Linked DNA regions of Homo sapiens. The protein of the gene in region 2 purifies or fractionates together with the protein of the main gene of each other region. This does not show direct contact. Each region holds a gene or a part of one and is shown on either strand. Other genes may lie near its edges.

Evidence for each region. Proteins that work in one complex are often made in the same cells at the same time.
Region 1: the proteins of FEZF1 (region 2) and TLE4 purify together in Homo sapiens (affinity purification with mass spectrometry; one large-scale study listed by BioGRID and IntAct). This does not show direct contact.

The regions. Positions count from the first base shown.
Region 1 is NC_000009.12:79,724,449-79,727,442, forward strand, and holds the end of TLE4 (transducin-like enhancer protein 4), read left to right. Parts: intron 1-588; coding exon 589-696; 3' UTR 697-2,434; downstream 2,435-2,994. UniProt on the Homo sapiens protein: Transcriptional corepressor that binds to a number of transcription factors. Inhibits the transcriptional activation mediated by PAX5, and by CTNNB1 and TCF family members in Wnt signaling.
Region 2 is NC_000007.14:122,301,674-122,306,214, reverse strand, and holds the start of FEZF1 (fez family zinc finger protein 1), read left to right. Parts: upstream 1-1,464; 5' UTR 1,465-1,777; coding exon 1,778-2,578; intron 2,579-2,903; coding exon 2,904-3,038; intron 3,039-3,283; coding exon 3,284-3,416; intron 3,417-3,859; coding exon 3,860-4,218; 3' UTR 4,219-4,541. UniProt on the Homo sapiens protein: Transcription repressor. Involved in the axonal projection and proper termination of olfactory sensory neurons (OSN). Plays a role in rostro-caudal patterning of the diencephalon and in prethalamic formation.

The DNA of each region.
Region 1 (2,994 bases), on a different chromosome or scaffold from region 2:
CATGCCATTGGCTTGCCTGCCTAGCTGATGTCCCCAGGACAGAAGCCTCCTGACTGACCTGGTGAGGTGTCGCCAAGGGTGGATCCGATCCACCTCTGCCATTTTAAGAAAGTGCCACGTGGTGGCTCATGCCTGTAATCTCAGGCATAATTTGGGAGGCCAAGGCAAGAGGATCTCTTGAGCCCAGGAGTTCGAGACCAGCCTGGGCAACTTAGTGAGACCCTCTCTCTACAAAAAAAGTTTGAAAATTAGGTGTGATTGGACACATCAGTGTCGTAGTCCCAGCATCTCAGGAGACTGAGGTGGAAGGATTGCTTGAGCTCAGAAGGTCGAGGCTACAGTGAGCCATGGTCACACCACTGCACTGCAGCCTGAGTGACTGAGGGAGACCCTGTCTTATTAAAAAAAAAAAAAAAAAAAAAAAAAAAAAAAAGCAGCAGTACTGTCCATGACCACCTTTCACCTTTCCTTGACTGGGCTTTCTGTTTGGTCAAGGAGCACATTACATTTGCATTTGCTCTAAGTCCTCCATACTCATGGGATTTTCTTTCAGTATTTAACATTTTTGATTATATGTTTCTTTCCTAGTCCAAAGAATCCTCATCGGTGCTTAGCTGTGACATCTCCGTGGACGACAAATACATTGTCACTGGCTCTGGGGATAAGAAGGCCACAGTTTATGAAGTTATTTATTAAAGACAAATCTTCATGCAGACTGGACTTCTCCTCCTGGTAGCACTTTGCTCTGTCATCCTTTTTGTTCACCCCCATCCCCGCATCTAAAACCAAGGATTTCAGATACTCATTGCAGTTGTGGAGTTTAATCCCCTTTCTTAACCTCACTTCCCACTTGCTATTGAATTGTGAATAGTCATTAAAAACCTGTGATACCAAATCTTCAGCTGTCTACTTGGAAGAACATGGAATAAGCATACTTAACAGTGAAAAGAATCTTTAATTATGTATTATATCTGTAATATATTTATTTTGTTTAAAGAAGGCTTTCTAACAATGACTGACTAAATAAAGCTGTCTGCTCCTGCATTGATAATGAAGGTGCGTTGTATTTGATACCCCTCCCCCCCTTTTTTTGGCAAAGGAGGGGAAAGGAAGGTTTAAAATAATTGATTTAAAATGTCACTAAGTGTAGACTGATGACTGTATAGAGATGTGAAATGTATAATTACACATGGAAGCAATATGTTGCTGTGTTGTTATTAGGTTTTTTTTGTTTTTGTTTTCTACATCTTTTAAAGACTTTTGGAAATTTGGCTGAACAATTAGAACACAACAGGCCAACTCATACTCATTTGGATCTATTTAGACAACGTTAACCAATATATCTATAGCTTTAGATTATATTCGATAAAAGTAATTGGACTTTTTTTCTTTTTTTGACTCGTTGACAAGTGTCTTTGTAATATGTTTTTAGTTCCCTTTTTTTGTTGTATTATAGGCAGATGAACAAATTAAATTTGGCCTCAAAGAGAGAACTTACTCCCTTCTGGATATTTTTGCCACATTTCTTTGCAAAAGGAGATATATATATCTTTAGTCAGTTTTGTTGTTATGAGAAATTATGGGTTATTTTGTGGCATGCTCTTTGGGAGCTGCACAGTTATGGGGAGGACTCCCACTGCTGTGCAAGTTAAGTCTTTTACAAAACAAGGACAGCAGAGGAGGGTTTGCAGAGACCTCCCTCTGAAAAACACAAAGAATGGACTCTCTCCTGGGATGAGGACTTGCTTTCTTTACCTCCGGTTCTTTCCATGTCTTAGTTGGATGTCCCTGAAATGGACACAGGCTGTGCCATTGTGCCAGAAACATTGTGTTATCTTTTATGTTGTTGTTGTTGCTGTTAAACTATAATATGTGACTTCTTTTTTTATTATTTTTTGTTTGAATGCTTTAAAAATCTTTTAAGTCTGTGGATCTGCTGATGTACAGTGCCTTTGCTGCTATGGATCAAAATCAAAAGAACCGTGTAGATATACTTTATTGTATAAGTAGAAAATTACTTAATTTCATACTAGAAATGGATGGATGCTGCAAGTTGAAATGGACTGTCCATTGACGTTCCTAATGTGGTAGCAGAAAAAAAAAAATGGTGTCTTAAGTGCTTAGTGTTTGATGTCATTAACAGTTTCGTAAAACTCTACAGTGTAGAAAGATTTTGATACTAAACTGTGCGTTGTACATAGTTCTAATGCATTGTATTGACCACCAGTACTTCTATAATGGTAGATTGTTTGTGAATTCAGACTTTTAAGCATTAAACATAAATAACTTCTAGTATGCTTATTTTTCTAATTCTTTGTCTTGATGACATTAGTTTATTTTTTATCTTTGGCTGTGCCACTCCTATATATTAAAAATGCCTAGTTTTTTCAAGGGAGATTGTTGTTAAAGTAAAGTGGTTTTTTTTGTTGTTAAAGTAATGTGGGTTTTTTTCACTGTTGCTGTTTTTGTTTTGGTTTTGTCTTTACTTGAGAGGAGCTAGAAAAGGTAGGTGATAGAAGTTAACAGTGACCAGTTGGTGCTAAATATTTATTGAGTACCTCTTTGATTTATAAAAATACTGCTTACCAAAAGGTTATCATGTCCCTCAAACCCTTGATGCTTTAGAGCTATGCTGTTCAATATGGTTACCCTAGGCATTTGTGGCTCTTTAAATTTATTAAAGTTAAATAAAACTAGAAATCTAATTTACCAGTCACACAAACTACATTTCAAGTGTCAAGTAGCCACATGTGGCTAATGGCTACCGTATTGGACTAGACACATCAACACGGGCTTTAAGTTAGCCAATGTAAACCATTGCCAGCCATGTGGATTTGGGAAGCATTTCTAGCATAACACACTGAGGTCTTTACACCAGGCTTCTTGGGCTGCTACTGGTTGGGTGTATGAAGATTCAGTATAAAGAGGAGTTTAAATTAAGAATTCTAAAGTGCTGGGACTCAAAAATCCGACATTTTAAGGTTCTACTAAGTA
Region 2 (4,541 bases):
TCCAGGCCCCACCGCCCTTTGCTTGCAGCTCTGCGCGCTCCTTTGGCCTCCTCACGCCAGCTTACAGCTGCCGTGTCTTCAAACTCTGTGCAGCCCTTCCTGCGCGCCTAGCTGCGGGGTTCAGCTCTGCGTGATCGCCGGCTGGCAAGAGACTGCGCCGGGGAAGGTGCGCGCCGCAGCTTCCAGCGCGCTCCTGGACGCTCTTGCCTGGGCGGCGGGAGCCCGCACAGTCGGAGCCGCAGCCGTAGGCGTCTTCCCGGAAACCTCCACACGCTCCACCGCGCCGCCCCAGGAGTTTCGGCCGAGGTGCCACACCCGGCGGGTGTTCGGCTGGGGGGCGTTGCAGGGGAAATGGTCTCTACGCGCGCTCTTTGGGAGGCACAAGTGCACCTGTGGACACAACTCTGGCGCCGGCAAGTCTCCTTGATGCGCACAGACATCCAGGCTGCCGCCTGCGCTGCTTAGAGGAGGCTTGCAGACACCGGCAACCGGAGTGGGGATTAATACACTCTGTTTCCCTTCTCCGCTCGGCATTCAGTATTTAAAATGCTCCGGGAGAGCTCTAGCTGAGCGCAGGTACTTAAGAAAGAAATGCTCTTTCCAGACTCTCAATGGAAACTCGGAAGCGTGCGCGCGCGCGCGTCTGTGTGTATCCTGGGTGGGGTCCGATCGAGTCAAGGTTGCTTGTGGTGTGACACCCAATTATTCCTTGCAACTCCTCAACTTTGTGGATGAAAGTGCGACTTTCCCAGGCCTATTGCCGCGGGCATTGCCTTTACAAAACCACAAACACAGAACAAGCCTCCTAAGGCTTTTAATTTTCGGGGCGTTTGGGGAGGCCAGTTACCTGCCGGCGTCTTCTAAATGGTCCAGACTCGGTTCGGGCCGCGGAGACTCCGGGATTCCGGGAGCGGGCAACCCCGAGCCCTGGAGGAAGAAATAGGTCTGCGGAGGTGGCACAGATCTGACCCGGCCCAGCCCGGCCCAGCCCGGCCCACCCAGGCCCAGTGGAACCAAGCAGCGAAACCTCGGATTTCACTGCCGAGGCTTCCTAGCCGAGGCTTTCTGGAGCTTGGCGTTTGATAAATATAGCCTGGCGTTTGCCCCTGAATTAGACTCCGTTTCCTTATTTAGCCCTTGCACAATGATTTTAGATGATGTCACTTAGAGCTAAACGAGAAAATTGATCTCAGATTTGCTTGGCCTCTAAAGCCTGGTTAAGCAGATTGAGAATTAGAAAGGCAGAGGAAGCAAAAGGGGGGTGGGGATGGGGGGGTGCGGAGGGTAGTGAAGTGTGCGCGGCAGAGTGTGTGCGCAGAGGGGAGGGCGCGCCAAGCGGGTGAAAGCGCCCCCGCCTTTTCTGGGCGGGGAACCTCACTCACCAATGAAAAGTAGTTACTGACTGCAGATGAAAAAAAAAAAAGTTTTCCTGTTGACTGTTGGAAGCGAATTGAGCAATTATCTAGTTTACCTTCTCCTCTTGGAAGTTAACGATTGGCGAGATCTTGGCTGCGTTATTGACACAACACTTTCTATTGATAGAAATAAGTAGTGATTGTCCCCGAGTCATTGGTGCGCCAAGAACTCTGCGATGGGCTGGCAGGAGTCCATTGGGCTGGGCAGGCAGGTTCGGCTGGTGATGCTGGGGAGGAGGAGGAGGAGGAGGCTACTGGTGGTGATGGTGCCCGTCCCCCTCTCCGCAGGTCTGTGACAAGCAGGGAACAAGGCAACGGACGGCGCAACCCAGCCCCGGCTGACGGACGCTGGCGACTCAGACATGGACAGTAGCTGCCACAACGCGACTACCAAAATGTTAGCGACTGCTCCAGCTCGGGGCAACATGATGAGCACGTCCAAACCCTTGGCTTTCTCCATTGAACGAATCATGGCGCGCACCCCAGAGCCCAAGGCCCTGCCAGTCCCCCACTTCCTGCAGGGAGCCTTACCCAAGGGGGAACCCAAGCACTCTCTGCATCTCAACTCGTCGATCCCCTGCATGATCCCCTTCGTGCCTGTGGCCTACGACACGAGCCCCAAGGCAGGAGTGACGGGCTCCGAGCCGCGGAAGGCCAGTCTGGAGGCCCCGGCGGCGCCCGCGGCGGTGCCCTCGGCTCCCGCATTCAGCTGCAGCGACCTGCTCAACTGCGCACTGAGTCTCAAGGGCGACCTGGCCCGCGACGCGCTGCCGCTGCAGCAGTACAAGCTGGTAAGGCCGCGTGTGGTCAACCACTCTTCATTCCACGCCATGGGCGCCTTGTGCTACCTGAACCGAGGTGACGGCCCATGCCACCCGGCAGCCGGCGTGAACATCCACCCGGTGGCCTCCTACTTCCTCAGTTCCCCTTTGCACCCGCAGCCAAAAACGTATTTAGCCGAAAGGAATAAACTGGTGGTCCCGGCGGTGGAGAAATACCCTTCTGGAGTAGCTTTCAAAGACCTGTCCCAGGCTCAGCTGCAGCATTACATGAAAGAAAGCGCCCAGCTTCTGTCGGAAAAAATCGCGTTCAAAACCTCGGATTTCAGCCGAGGCTCTCCTAATGCCAAGCCCAAAGTTTTCACTTGCGAAGTGTGTGGAAAGGCAAGTACAATGCAAAACGGAGATCCTTTCCTTCCCTCCCTTCCTTCCTTCCTTCCTTCCCTCCCTCCCTCCCTCCTTCCCTCCTTCCTTCCCTCCCTCCTTCCTTCCTTCCTTCCTTCCTTCCTTCCTTCCTTCCTTCCTTCCTTCCTTCCTTCCTTCCTTCCCTCCCTCGCTCCTCCTTTCCTTCCTCCCTTTTTAGTATTTTGGGGGTAATTATTTGCATACACTTTTTGTTAAGATTCTCTTCCTCCTACCCTCTCTCTGCCCGGTTTGATTTCAAAGTTACTTGTGCGGCTAACCTGTTCTACGTGTGTTTAATTTTAAGGTCTTTAATGCGCACTATAACTTAACCCGTCACATGCCAGTGCACACAGGAGCCAGACCCTTCGTTTGCAAAGTGTGCGGAAAAGGTTTCAGGCAAGCAAGCACCCTGTGCAGGCACAAGATCATTCACACGCAGGTGTGTTCATCTGTCTCAATTTCACCTAGTTTGCTTCCGAACTGTTTGCAGAAAAACAGCCGATAAAACCTTACTCTTTAGGATAACGTTCATTTAAAAAGTGCTAGCTAAACAGGGTGAATGCCATGTATTGTTTGCTTTTGTTCTGCTTGAAAGTGTTTAAGCATTACTGTGTTTTGAGCTTGCAGAACTTCACATAATTAGAAAATATCTAAATGTCTCTGCTTTTCCTTTCTCCTGCTTAGGAAAAACCTCACAAATGTAACCAGTGTGGCAAAGCATTTAATAGAAGTTCCACTTTAAACACTCATACCCGAATACACGCGGGCTACAAACCGTTTGTGTGTGAATTCTGTGGCAAAGGGTTTCATCAAAAAGGTATGCAAACCAGGAAATGTCTCTCATGGTTAGTCTTATGAAAAGCCATACTTAATACTTTCGGGATGTTTTAGAAGACGATGTTTAAAGTGTAGTTATGTGGCACTTTTGTTGCCATTCTAACTCCCTACTCGAAGTCTGATTAGTATTAGAGAAAAGCATGATTCATAAAACAAGGGTATATGTTTTAACTGCATGCTCTCATTGTATGTAATTGGACTGATAAATGTGTATTAAAATTTAAGGAAACGGCATCACTGTTGATGCGATGCTTGAAAATAAACTTGGGGAGACAAGTGCAGGCACAGATAGTAGCCCTGCACTTGTTGTGGGACCTGTGGCGGCTCTTCTGCTTGCCTGGCGCTACCTTCCACGTGTCTGCTCCTCCCTTTTTAAGCTATTTTTTTTTTCAGAACCATATTCCTGTCATTTGTGTGTTTCAGGGAATTACAAAAACCACAAGTTGACCCACAGCGGGGAGAAGCAGTTCAAGTGCAATATCTGCAACAAGGCTTTCCACCAGGTTTACAACCTCACCTTCCACATGCACACCCACAACGACAAGAAGCCTTTCACCTGCCCCACGTGCGGCAAGGGTTTCTGCAGGAACTTTGACCTCAAGAAGCATGTCCGCAAGCTGCACGACAGCAGCCTGGGGCTGGCCCGCACGCCAGCTGGCGAACCAGGCACTGAACCGCCGCCCCCGCTACCGCAGCAGCCGCCGATGACGCTGCCTCCTCTGCAGCCGCCGCTGCCAACCCCGGGGCCCCTGCAGCCCGGGCTCCACCAGGGCCACCAGTGATCGAGGCTAAGGGTCCTCCCAGCCTCAGCCGTGCCCCCACGCTGAGGCAGCGGCAGACTAGAGCTCCTGGTCCGAGTTCGTCTGCAGACCCCAGGGCATGTTGGGCCCCACACTTCAGGGCCGACCAGAAGCCTCTGCATCCCCTGGCCTTTCGCCTCTTGCATGCACCTGCTAAATGGTTTTGTGTATTATATTCTATATAGGCACTAACAATTATGAAAAATTTGGAGGGTTTTGCTTGTTTTCTGTTTTTCTTTTTCTTTTTTTTTAATTTGGAAAGACTTTTCATCTTGGGTGGAGAGATGGTGTTTATTTTGTTTTGT